Linked DNA regions of Homo sapiens. The protein of the gene in region 2 purifies or fractionates together with the protein of the main gene of each other region. This does not show direct contact. Each region holds a gene or a part of one and is shown on either strand. Other genes may lie near its edges.

Region 1 (4,587 bases), on a different chromosome or scaffold from region 2:
GAGATTGAGAATGCCAAGTGCCAGGTGGGGTCTGTGGAGGATTCAAATACGCAGCACAGGCAGGCTGCAGCACCTGGCCCTAATCAGGCTTCACAGTGTGCCCATGAGGAAGCAGGGACCCAGAGGGAAGGGAGGGGCTCTATCATATTTCACAGCAATCAGACCATGTCACTGACTTCCAAAGGAGGATCCAGCCCCTTCCTTGGCCACCCTGTGACCGCCATCAAGGAGAGATGATGAAAAGCCCACCCATCTCCTCCCTCATATTCACAGCCCCATTAACTACCTGGCCACGGGCCAACCTTCTCTCCAGGACCCTCCTCTCCCTGCCCTGGCTCCATCAGCTTGGGTGAGCCAAGCTGTGGCTTCTCTTTCTCATCCTGGCCCTTGTATCTCCACCTGATAGCGTGCCAAGCTGGAGGCTGCTGTGGCTGAGGCAGAGCAGCAGGGTGAGGCGGCCCTCAGCGATGCCCGCTGCAAGCTGGCTGAGCTGGAGGGCGCCCTGCAGAAGGCCAAGCAGGACATGGCCTGCCTGCTCAAGGAGTACCAGGAGGTGATGAACTCCAAGCTGGGCCTGGACATCGAGATCGCCACCTACAGGCGCCTGCTGGAGGGCGAGGAACACAGGTGGGGCTAAGAGGACTTTGTGGGGTTTCAGAGGTGGAGGCTGTGGTCCTCCAGGAGTGAATTTCCTTGAGCTGAGTGTGAGCTACAACTCTGGCCATGGCTAATACAATAGCTTCAATAATAATAATAATAATAACTGAATGCTTCTGTGCTAGACCTGTGCTAAGTGTTTATTTTATAATCCTCACAATCCAATAAGATAGATATGGTTTTTCCCATCTTTTTATCTTTAGATAAAGAAGCAGGCTCAGAATTCAGTGCCTTTATCATGGCTACGCAGTTAATAAGCAGAAGAGCTGGGACCTGCACCCAAGTCTCATGCCTCCCAAATCCGTCCTTGTTGAATAGCTTCCTACTGAAGCTGCTGCCACACAGGCCTGTGTGTTATGATGATGATGCACTTCTATATGCATTTAGCTCTTCATCAACCACAAAGCCCCTTCACACCCTGGTGTATCTGATTCAACTCTCCTTCCTGTGAGCTTGATTGGCACCATCCAGGCTGGCCACCATCACTCAAACTAGGGGCACTGTTCATAATCTTACCCACTGCTGCTGAAAATCAGAAAGCCTTGTCTTCATGGTTAAAACCATCAAAGAAAGAAAGCATTTAATGCAGATTTGAGGGAGCCCTTCTTGCCTTTCAGGGGTAGACTCTGTACACAGGATGACCCTCTCTGTCCCCAAGCAACCATCAGTCTCAAGGAATCCAACTCAGTGTCTGGAACTAACAGAGTTTTCTTTCTCCATAGGCTGTGTGAAGGTGTGGGCTCTGTGAATGTCTGTGAGTATCTGCCTGAAATTCTCCTGGAAAAATGGCTTTTTTGATAGAAAAGCTGAACTCATTGGCCTAACCCATGGAGCCTCGAGTGTTCCCCCAACTGTTTCACCCTCCCCTGGCTCCTCAGTGGGGGCCATGACAGGTGTTAGAGAAAGCTGAGCTGAGTGCTCTTCGCAAGTGTTGACAGTGAGCTATAGGCCATGGACCTGTGGCCTGGCAGCTTTGCTCCCCGGGGTCCAGGGGTCCTCACTTCCTTCCTGCCCCAGTTCCCTAGATGGGCTGTGCATCTCAGGGACAGGGCCTGCATTGTTGACCACCAATTCCTTGGAGAGGGAGGCAGCTCCTGCAGTGCCCTGGGGCCTGTTGTAGGGTGGGTGAGATTGCAGGGAGCTGCTCACCCCTCCATGTCTCCTCTCTCCACAGGTGTCAGCAGCTCCCGTGGTGGAGTCTCCTGTGGGGGCCTCTCCTACAGCACCACCCCAGGGCGCCAGATCACTTCTGGCCCCTCAGCCATAGGCGGCAGCATCACGGTGGTGGCCCCTGACTCCTGTGCCCCCTGCCAGCCTCGTTCCTCCAGCTTCAGCTGCGGGAGTAGCCGGTCGGTCCGCTTTGCCTAGTAGAGTCATGGAGCCAGGGCTTCCTGCCAAGCACCTGCCTGCCTGCATCACTGCACTGAATGGCATGTGAATGGAAAATGTGTGCTTGCTTCCAGAATCTTCTGGATGTTCCTACAGAGGGAAAGACCTACAGAGGGAAAGACCCTCGGGCCGCTCCCCTGCGCCTTTTCATGCTAGGGAGATGCATCCTAGTTGTCCTCCTGGCAGCTGTTTTCAGAGGCATTCCCAGCCCTTCACTTAACTCCTACTTAGCTCCAAAATACCTGTATCCAATTTGTATTATTCCCCCAGCTCTCAGGGACAAGACCAGTCCCCCAGCGTGGTGGTCAGCACGGAAGCTCCACCTTCTGGGTGGAGGCGCCATCCTAACCATCCAGCCAGGCCACCCACAACCCGAGAATCAGGGAGAAAGTCCCTCCCCAGCAGCCCCCTCCTCCTGGCTGGGAAGAATGGTCCCCCAGCAAGCACTTGCCTGTTCATTCCTGTTCATGTTTTGCTTCTCTCTCAGACTGCCTTCCTGCTTCTGGGCTAACCTGTTCCAGCCAGGCTCCTCATGTGACCTCGCAGTTGAGAAGCCCATTATCGTGGGGCATCCTTTTGCCTACAGCCCCTGGTTAGGGCACTTTGGACAGGTCTTGCTATTCAGTGAACCTTTGTACATTTCAAAGAAGACTCCATGGCTGCTCCAGATGCCCCCTTGCTGGGTGCAGGTGGGGACTGTCCAATGCAGAGCTGGCGGGACAGAGAGTTAAGCCACTTCCTGGGTCTCCTTCTTGTGACTGTCTATGGGTGCATTGCCTTCTGGGTTGTCTCGATCTGTGTTTCAATAAATGCCGCTGCAATGCAAGAGCGTGTGGTCTTGTGAGCAACTTCTCCACTCCCTTCTTGCCTCATCTCCAGATGACCAATCCCAGTCCAGCCCCATGCAGTGTTTCCCCAGTCACCCCCCAGAAACTCTGCTGCTTCCTGTCCACTTCCACAGTCTGATTCCACTCAGTCGCCCTCAGTCCCCTCAGGCCTGGACTACAGCCCAGCTCCCCACTAATGACCTCTTTCTCCCTGACCCACCCTGCGTACTCCCAGCAGCCAAAACTCCATCCCAAACTCACTGCTCTCACCCTCTCCTGCCTGGCTCAAGTCACTTCCTGGCACATGTGTGTGCTTCTTATGCCAAATGCAGGCTTCCTCTGTCACCTCCTTCCCCAGCTACTCCTCAGCCCTGTCCAACCCCTCCATGCGGTGCTCATCCTCCCAGTCATGGACTCCACCCCAAGGAGACAAGTCTACCCTCTGAGGCAGCCCAGAGACACTCTCTCCTACATACCCCTTGTGGACACATAGGCCATCCCACATCCCTCCTCCCATTTGCCTTTGCTCAGGGCCCTCCTCTGCTCCCCAAAGCTACCACCCTCACCCCTACACCCCCCAGCCCTCCCCCGCCCCCATCATATAGTGTCTGGAACCCTGAGAATCTCTGGTTTTGTCTCTGCGGATCTGGGCCAGGGATGTCAACGGGTGTGTCTGGATCAAGCTGGAAATTCCATAAGGACAGGAAGTATCTCCTCCTGGCTCTGACCTCCCACTGAGTCCCAGGATGGGGCTCCAAGATATGCCAGGCCTGGGATGTGCTGGATGAATGCAGGCAGCTGGTGCAGCAGGAGGTAGAGACATCCAGTCCTCTTGCCCTCAGCTCCATCTCCCCATTAGCTGTCACCGTCATCAAGCAGGTGTCTGCCAGCCCCCTGCTGCCCCATCCTGCAGCCTCTTTCTCTGAGAGGAGAAGATAGGGCCTTGTGCATCCTCACTTTAGGCCCAAAGGGCTGTAGCCCCACTGGAGGCTGCTGGCTGCTTCTGAGTGCTTAGGCTGCTGCTCTGTTTGAGGTTTGCTGGCTGACACCTGGCGGGCCTCCTCCAGGTCTCTTGCCTGCTGCCTCCTTTTTCCCAGCTGTTTGGGCCCTGAGGGCATGGTGACAATCACAATAGGCCAACTTTCAATTTAGGGGACATCATTCACCCACAGGAAACGTTAAATCCCAGGGGCTGAAACATCAGGAAATGGAAATTTGAGCCCCAATTCTGCCAAGACTGCCAGGTCTCGGTGAGTCCTTGGGCAGGAAGTGGCTTTCATGCTTTGCATGTCAGTCTGGGGTCTATGAGATGAGTGGGTAGAGTCCTTACCAGGTCTGCTGCCTCCTATGGTTCTGAGATGCTACAGAGAGTCTATGCTTGGGGAAAACAGCTTCATGTTACCATGGATCTGGGCTGAGCAAAACAAAAATGCCAAATCTGATACCCAAAAAATAACGGCACCATGGATTGAAAAGTCAAACAGCCAGAACCTGGGAGATAGGAATGAATTTTTTAATACATTTCCGTGCTTTGTGTGCAAATACCATTCAACAGATTCAGCTGGCCAGAGGTGCCTTTTGCTTATGGGGAGGTAAGCCTCTGCCCCAGCCCTCCTTGCAGCCAACAGCAAAAACCCACCACAGCAAGCTCTTCTGGCTCAAAGGATGCTGGGGCTCCTGCAGCTCTCTCCTGATCAAAGAACTATTCCCCTCG
Region 2 (5,599 bases):
AGTCGGAGGTTGCGGTGAGCCGAGATCGCACCACTGCACTCCAGCCTCGTGACAGAGCGAGACTCCGTCTCAAAAAAAAAAAAAAAAAAAACAAAAAACAAAAAACCAACTAAAAATCTATGTAGTACATCTAACTTTAATAGCCAAAAACCTAACTCCTGGGGACAAGGACTTCTCTATTCTTACAGTCCTGATCTTCTCCCCAAAACCTTGCTCTTCCAAGTCTTCCCAGCTCAGTAATTCACGATTCCATTCTTCTAATTTTTCAAGCCAAAAATCTTGGAACTATCCTTGATTCCTCTTTCCAACCCCATATCCCAATCTTTCAGCAAATCCTGTTGGCTTTACCTTCAAAGTATAAATAAACTCCAACCATGCCTCAACACCTCTGCCACCACCCTCTCCCCCAGAATACTGCAACTGCCTTCAACTAGTCCAAAGGGAAAAAAGCTTTTTTTCCTTTCTACTTATCAATCTAAATAAAAAGAAAAGAGAAGCTTCTAAAAAGAAAGTGACATTTATTCAGGAATAAAGTATTCCAATGGGAATACACATGCCATAGTAAACTGTGTGTGTTCAGGGAGGTAAGGGAAGACAAAAGGTTTTTAAAGGAAAATAAGGAGGATCACATACTTGTTTTGAGATAATTACCCTTGGCTACAAGGATCAATAACAAGGATGACACCCGTCCACAGATGGACCAGGCAGTTGCTGGGCAGATGTCCTTGCAGAAGTATTTTCTGTGTATTTATTTCATGATGTATTTTCTGTGTATTTCAGAAGTATTTCATGATGGCCTTTGTGCAAGGGTGTGGTTTTTGCAGAGTCTTTTGAGATATTTTGGTATTTATGCATGAAAGCTCTCTCTTCATAGCCTTTCCTGGATCTATTTGTCTTTTTTTTTTCTTTTAATAGAGACAGGGTCTCACACTCTGTCATCCTGACTGGAATGCAGTGGCACAATCACAGCTCACTGCAGCCTGGACCTCCTGGGCATGGTGCCGTGCACCCGTAGTCCCCCTCCCGGGTAGCTGGGGCTACAGACTCACACCACCATGCCCAGCTAATTTAAATTTTTTTTTTTGTAGAGACAAGGCCACACTATGTTGCATGGGCTGGTCTCCAATTCCTGGGATCAAGCAATCCTCCTGCCTCAGCCTCCCAAAGTGTTGGGATTACAGTTGTCAGCCACTGTGCCTGGCCAGTCAGGATTTTTTTTTCTTTTTTAACACAAGTGACTCCATTTTGATTATGACAATTTTCACATATTCTATCCTCCCAGCACACTTTTGTGACCAGATGTGTGGGGGCTTTTTCCCCACACCAAGCAATTCTCCAGAGGACACCAAATGGGTATCCTATAATCCAATTCCATTTGGATGTTATCTACCTAGAGACCATGTCAGATCCTACAGGTTGAGGGCTCAGTCCCATGACTCCCTCCACTTCAGATGCCAATCCCACATCCAGGCCACCAGTACATCTGACTGACTGGCTACAAAGGTTCCCACTCCCCCTTCTTGGGCATAACTAGTTTGCAAGGACAGCTCGCAGAACTCAAACAAACACTTACTTATGTTTATTGGTTTATCCTAAAGGATATTATAAAGGGTATAGATGAAGAAATGAGTAGGGCAAGGTATGGGACAGAAGAGGTATGAAGCTTCCACTTCCTCTAAGCATACCACCTCCTACACGGCACCAGCCCCCAGCAACCCACTCATTAAATCCAAATCTTGATATTTTTATACAGCTTGATCTCCAGCCCCTCCACTCCTTTCCTGGAGGCCTGTACGTGGGGCTAAAAGTTCTAACCCGTTAATTCTCTAATCATGTGGTCTTTCCAGCTACTTGCCCCATCTGAGGCTATCTACGGCTCCATCCTAAGTCACCACAATAGTATGAACCCCGGTGTTAGCAAACAGGCTCATTCTGAATAACAGGACACTCTTATCATTCAGGAAATTCCAAGACTTTTAGCTCTGTAACGGAAACCATAGACAAGGACCAAATATAATTCATATTATACTATAACTAATCTCCCTGCTTCAGGTCTTGCCCATTACATATATTTTCAACAGTGCAGCCACAGTAATGCTTTTAACACTGAAGTCAACTTATGTCACTCCTCTGCCAACATCTCTGCCATGGTTCCTGGTTTCACCCATAGTAAAAGCCAGAAAGCTTACAATGGCTTATAAGACCCTACTTGGTCCAGCTCCCCCATTATTTTTCTGATCCACCTTCTATCGCTCTGCTGCTTTCATTGCAGTAGCACAAACATGACAGGCAGCCTCCATTCTCTCAGGGCCTTCCTGGAACTTGCTTCCCCTGCCTAGAAAGCTCACTGCTCTTCACCTCTTTCAGGCTTTTGCTCGAATTGCACTTTTCATTGAAGCGTTCCCCTCACCATCCTATTTAAAATTGCAAACTCCCCCTACTTTGGCATTCCAGTCCCTACTGCCTTATTTTTCTCCACAGCACTTTTTATCACCTGACAGAAAAACACATACTTGTTCACTGTCTTTCCCACTCTATGACATAACTTCCTTAAGGGCAAGAAATTTTTGTTTTATTATTGTATCCTAACATTGTATCTGCAACAGTGCCAAACAGTGACACTCATAAAAAAAATTACTGAATATAAACATAAAGAAATTTATATTTGTAGACACGCCTGGGATTACTTTACTTCAAATTATACCCAGCATAAGTATCTATTAACAACCATGTGATTTAGTCTAGTATTTTCCAAACCTGGCTGATGATGATCAGACTCATCCTCAAATGTTACAAAACCACAGAATTCTGGGCCAACTCTATTGAATCAGCATCTGGGGGTGATACTCAGAAATTTATTAAAAGCACTCCAGGTAATTCTGATGAACTGCTAATTTTTTGCTGGAATAAACAGATCTGAAATTAGAAGTCTGTATTCCAACCACAGCTCTGCCACTGTATCAGGATCTTATGTTCCCAAACCCTCTGAAATCAATTTATTTTCTTATTCATGAAATAGGAATACAAATCTTGCAAAGTTCTGAGAATTAAAAGTGTATGAGACAGTCTCATAAACTGTCAAATACAATAAAATGTGGAGTATTACAGAATTTAATGAGCTGCTATATAAAAGCCGTACCAGTCGGTACAAATTACTATAATTCTAAAAGCGATTTAGAGCTTCTAAAAGGATCTTTTAGAATTTACAAGATTCTATACTCTCTTTAGTTCAGAGTATATATACTGGTTTTGGACTAACCAATTTCCAAAATACTCTTCCAGGTACATTAGAAATTCATAACTTTTCCCATCAGTTGCAAAGATAAACCAAAGAGATGAGAGAGTAACTACTATATGCTAATAGCTAACAAGGACCTCCAAAAGGTTAAAAAAAAAGAAAAAAACCTTGAAATGTATTTTCTCCTCTCGCAAATCAAATGGCAATAAAAACGAACATCTTTACGCAACCAAGTAAAGGTAGGTGGAAAAATAACATTGTATACCAGACAGACTTACAAACTGAGATTACATATTAAAAATCTAGTCTAAAAAACAAAAAATGAGTAAACTTTTAAAACAATTAATAAAAAAGCAAAAGAAAAAAGAAAAATCTTATATATACTATATAAGATTAATACTTTACCTGCAGATCCTCACACAAAAAGATAGATTCTTGAAAACTAATTCGGTAAGTCTTTAAGGCTTTTAACTTTCCCTTCTCTCTACAAGCAGGGCAATACTCATCTGATGGAACTTTAGCTGAATCAAAATTCTAAAAGAGAAATAAAGCAAATTAAAATATAGACATTCCTAGAATATATCAAAATATTAAAAGTTAAATGGAAAGGTAACCAGAAAAAATTATAATTTTCAATTACAAGTATCCTGACAAGGTATTTTAAACATGGCAAACAAAAGAAATGCATATAAGCCTTTAAATACAGCTATTATTCCAAAAAGAATTATGTTATAGTTTTAAATATTAAATTTTATGTGTTAAGAATAGTATCAATTTTATTTGCAAGGAAAAAAGTAACATCAATTACCCGGGAGAATTTATGTACCATATTTTCAAAGAACAGTAAATCATAAGGTCTATGTTTTATTTCCACTTTCATGTATCAATAAAACACAGAAAGGTAAACACATTAAAACAATCTTTCGCCATTACTGTAAGATTTCCGTGGAAGACACAATTTTTTAGAAGTTAACTGGTAACATCAAAATTGAATTTAAGTCTCAAAAATAGAGAAAAAAAAAAAACTTTGCACTCAGGCAAAAAATAAGTTCACTAACTTTTCCCAAATACCCCACCATGTGGAGTGAAGATATCCCTATATCAGTCCCTGGTCCAATCACTGGCAAACCATTTCCAATCTTCGGAGAATCCATCATTCCGAGTCATTGGCTAATTTATGTCACTTGAGACATGTCAATATCACTAAGGATTTTTTCAATGAACCCTGGAAAAAAAAAGTCAATAGACAATTAAATAAAAATTCTATTTACTATAAAAAAGAACCATGCTATTTTATAAGACGTATATAGTAAGCAGATTTTGAGGGCTATATGTCCTAGAATAAACATATTCTAAAATTATAATCTTGAAGTGAAAATGATACCTATATTTATAAACCCAGCAAATTTGTGAACAGAGGGTAGTGACTGGCAACAGGACCGGTTTTCATAGCAGACTCATTTGTCAACAAATTAAATAAAACTTGTAGTAGAGGCAGCTACTATTTAAAGCAAACTATATTGACCAGAATTTGAAAGCCTAACTTTTTAGAGTCTATGTACAATTTGAAACAAATATGCCAGCATTATACTGAGAAAAACCCCAGATCCATTGTGCCACTATTTGACAGGAACAAAAGAACCAGTGAACCATATATTCCATACATTCCTATTGTTTTCAACTACCAACATTAATACTTCACCAGTTGGGAAAAATACTACTTATTAAAAGCTGCTAACAAATTATTATTTGTAAATGATCTAATTTACACCACATTTAACTTATTTTGTTATCTGAACAAAAATATAAACACTGTCCTAGTACAAATTACATATGTGGCAAGCTTGTTTTGAGTGCAGTCCTATGGTGCAGAACCACATTTAACAGAGTAAAAATTACAAGAGACCGGAGCTCAGTGTAAGCAAAAAATAATTAAGAGCATTTTAATTGTGGGTTCACAATGATAGGAAAATCAAATACAGGAGACCTTTAGGGCAGAGGAGAATTACCACTTAGCAGAAATGTTGTAAAATAATTCTAGGCATAAGTCTTTCCCAAATCCAAGAATCCATGATTCTATGACACCCATCTCCTGGGAATCGATGGCTCACAATTCACTTTAAAATCTAATTACGCTATTCTGGTTCGGCTATATAAACTTCACAAACCTTTCAAGCCAAGGAATAATTTCAAAAATAAAACTGCTTTTTAAAGAAAGTATCGGCGAATCTTAATTTCCTATTCCTGAAGAAATAACCATAAGACAGAAATTTCTCAACTGCAGCACTACAAATATCTTTGACCAAATAATTGTTTGTGAAGGCTGTTCTATGCACTGACGATGTTTAGCAGCGTCACTGA

Evidence for each region. The genes of interacting proteins can lie anywhere in the genome.
Region 1: the proteins of USPL1 (region 2) and KRT85 purify together in Homo sapiens (affinity purification with mass spectrometry; one large-scale study listed by BioGRID and IntAct). This does not show direct contact.

Annotation. Positions count from the first base shown.
Region 1 is NC_000012.12:52,358,291-52,362,877, reverse strand, and holds the end of KRT85 (keratin, type II cuticular Hb5), read left to right. Parts: coding exon 1-24; intron 25-406; coding exon 407-627; intron 628-1,379; coding exon 1,380-1,411; intron 1,412-1,831; coding exon 1,832-2,025; 3' UTR 2,026-2,872; downstream 2,873-4,587.
Region 2 is NC_000013.11:30,619,937-30,625,535, reverse strand, and holds part of USPL1 (SUMO-specific isopeptidase USPL1), read right to left. Parts: intron 4,464-5,599; 5' UTR 4,396-4,463; coding exon 4,297-4,395; intron 3,773-4,296; coding exon 3,644-3,772; intron 1-3,643. UniProt on the Homo sapiens protein: SUMO-specific isopeptidase involved in protein desumoylation. Specifically binds SUMO proteins with a higher affinity for SUMO2 and SUMO3 which it cleaves more efficiently. Also able to process full-length SUMO proteins to their mature forms.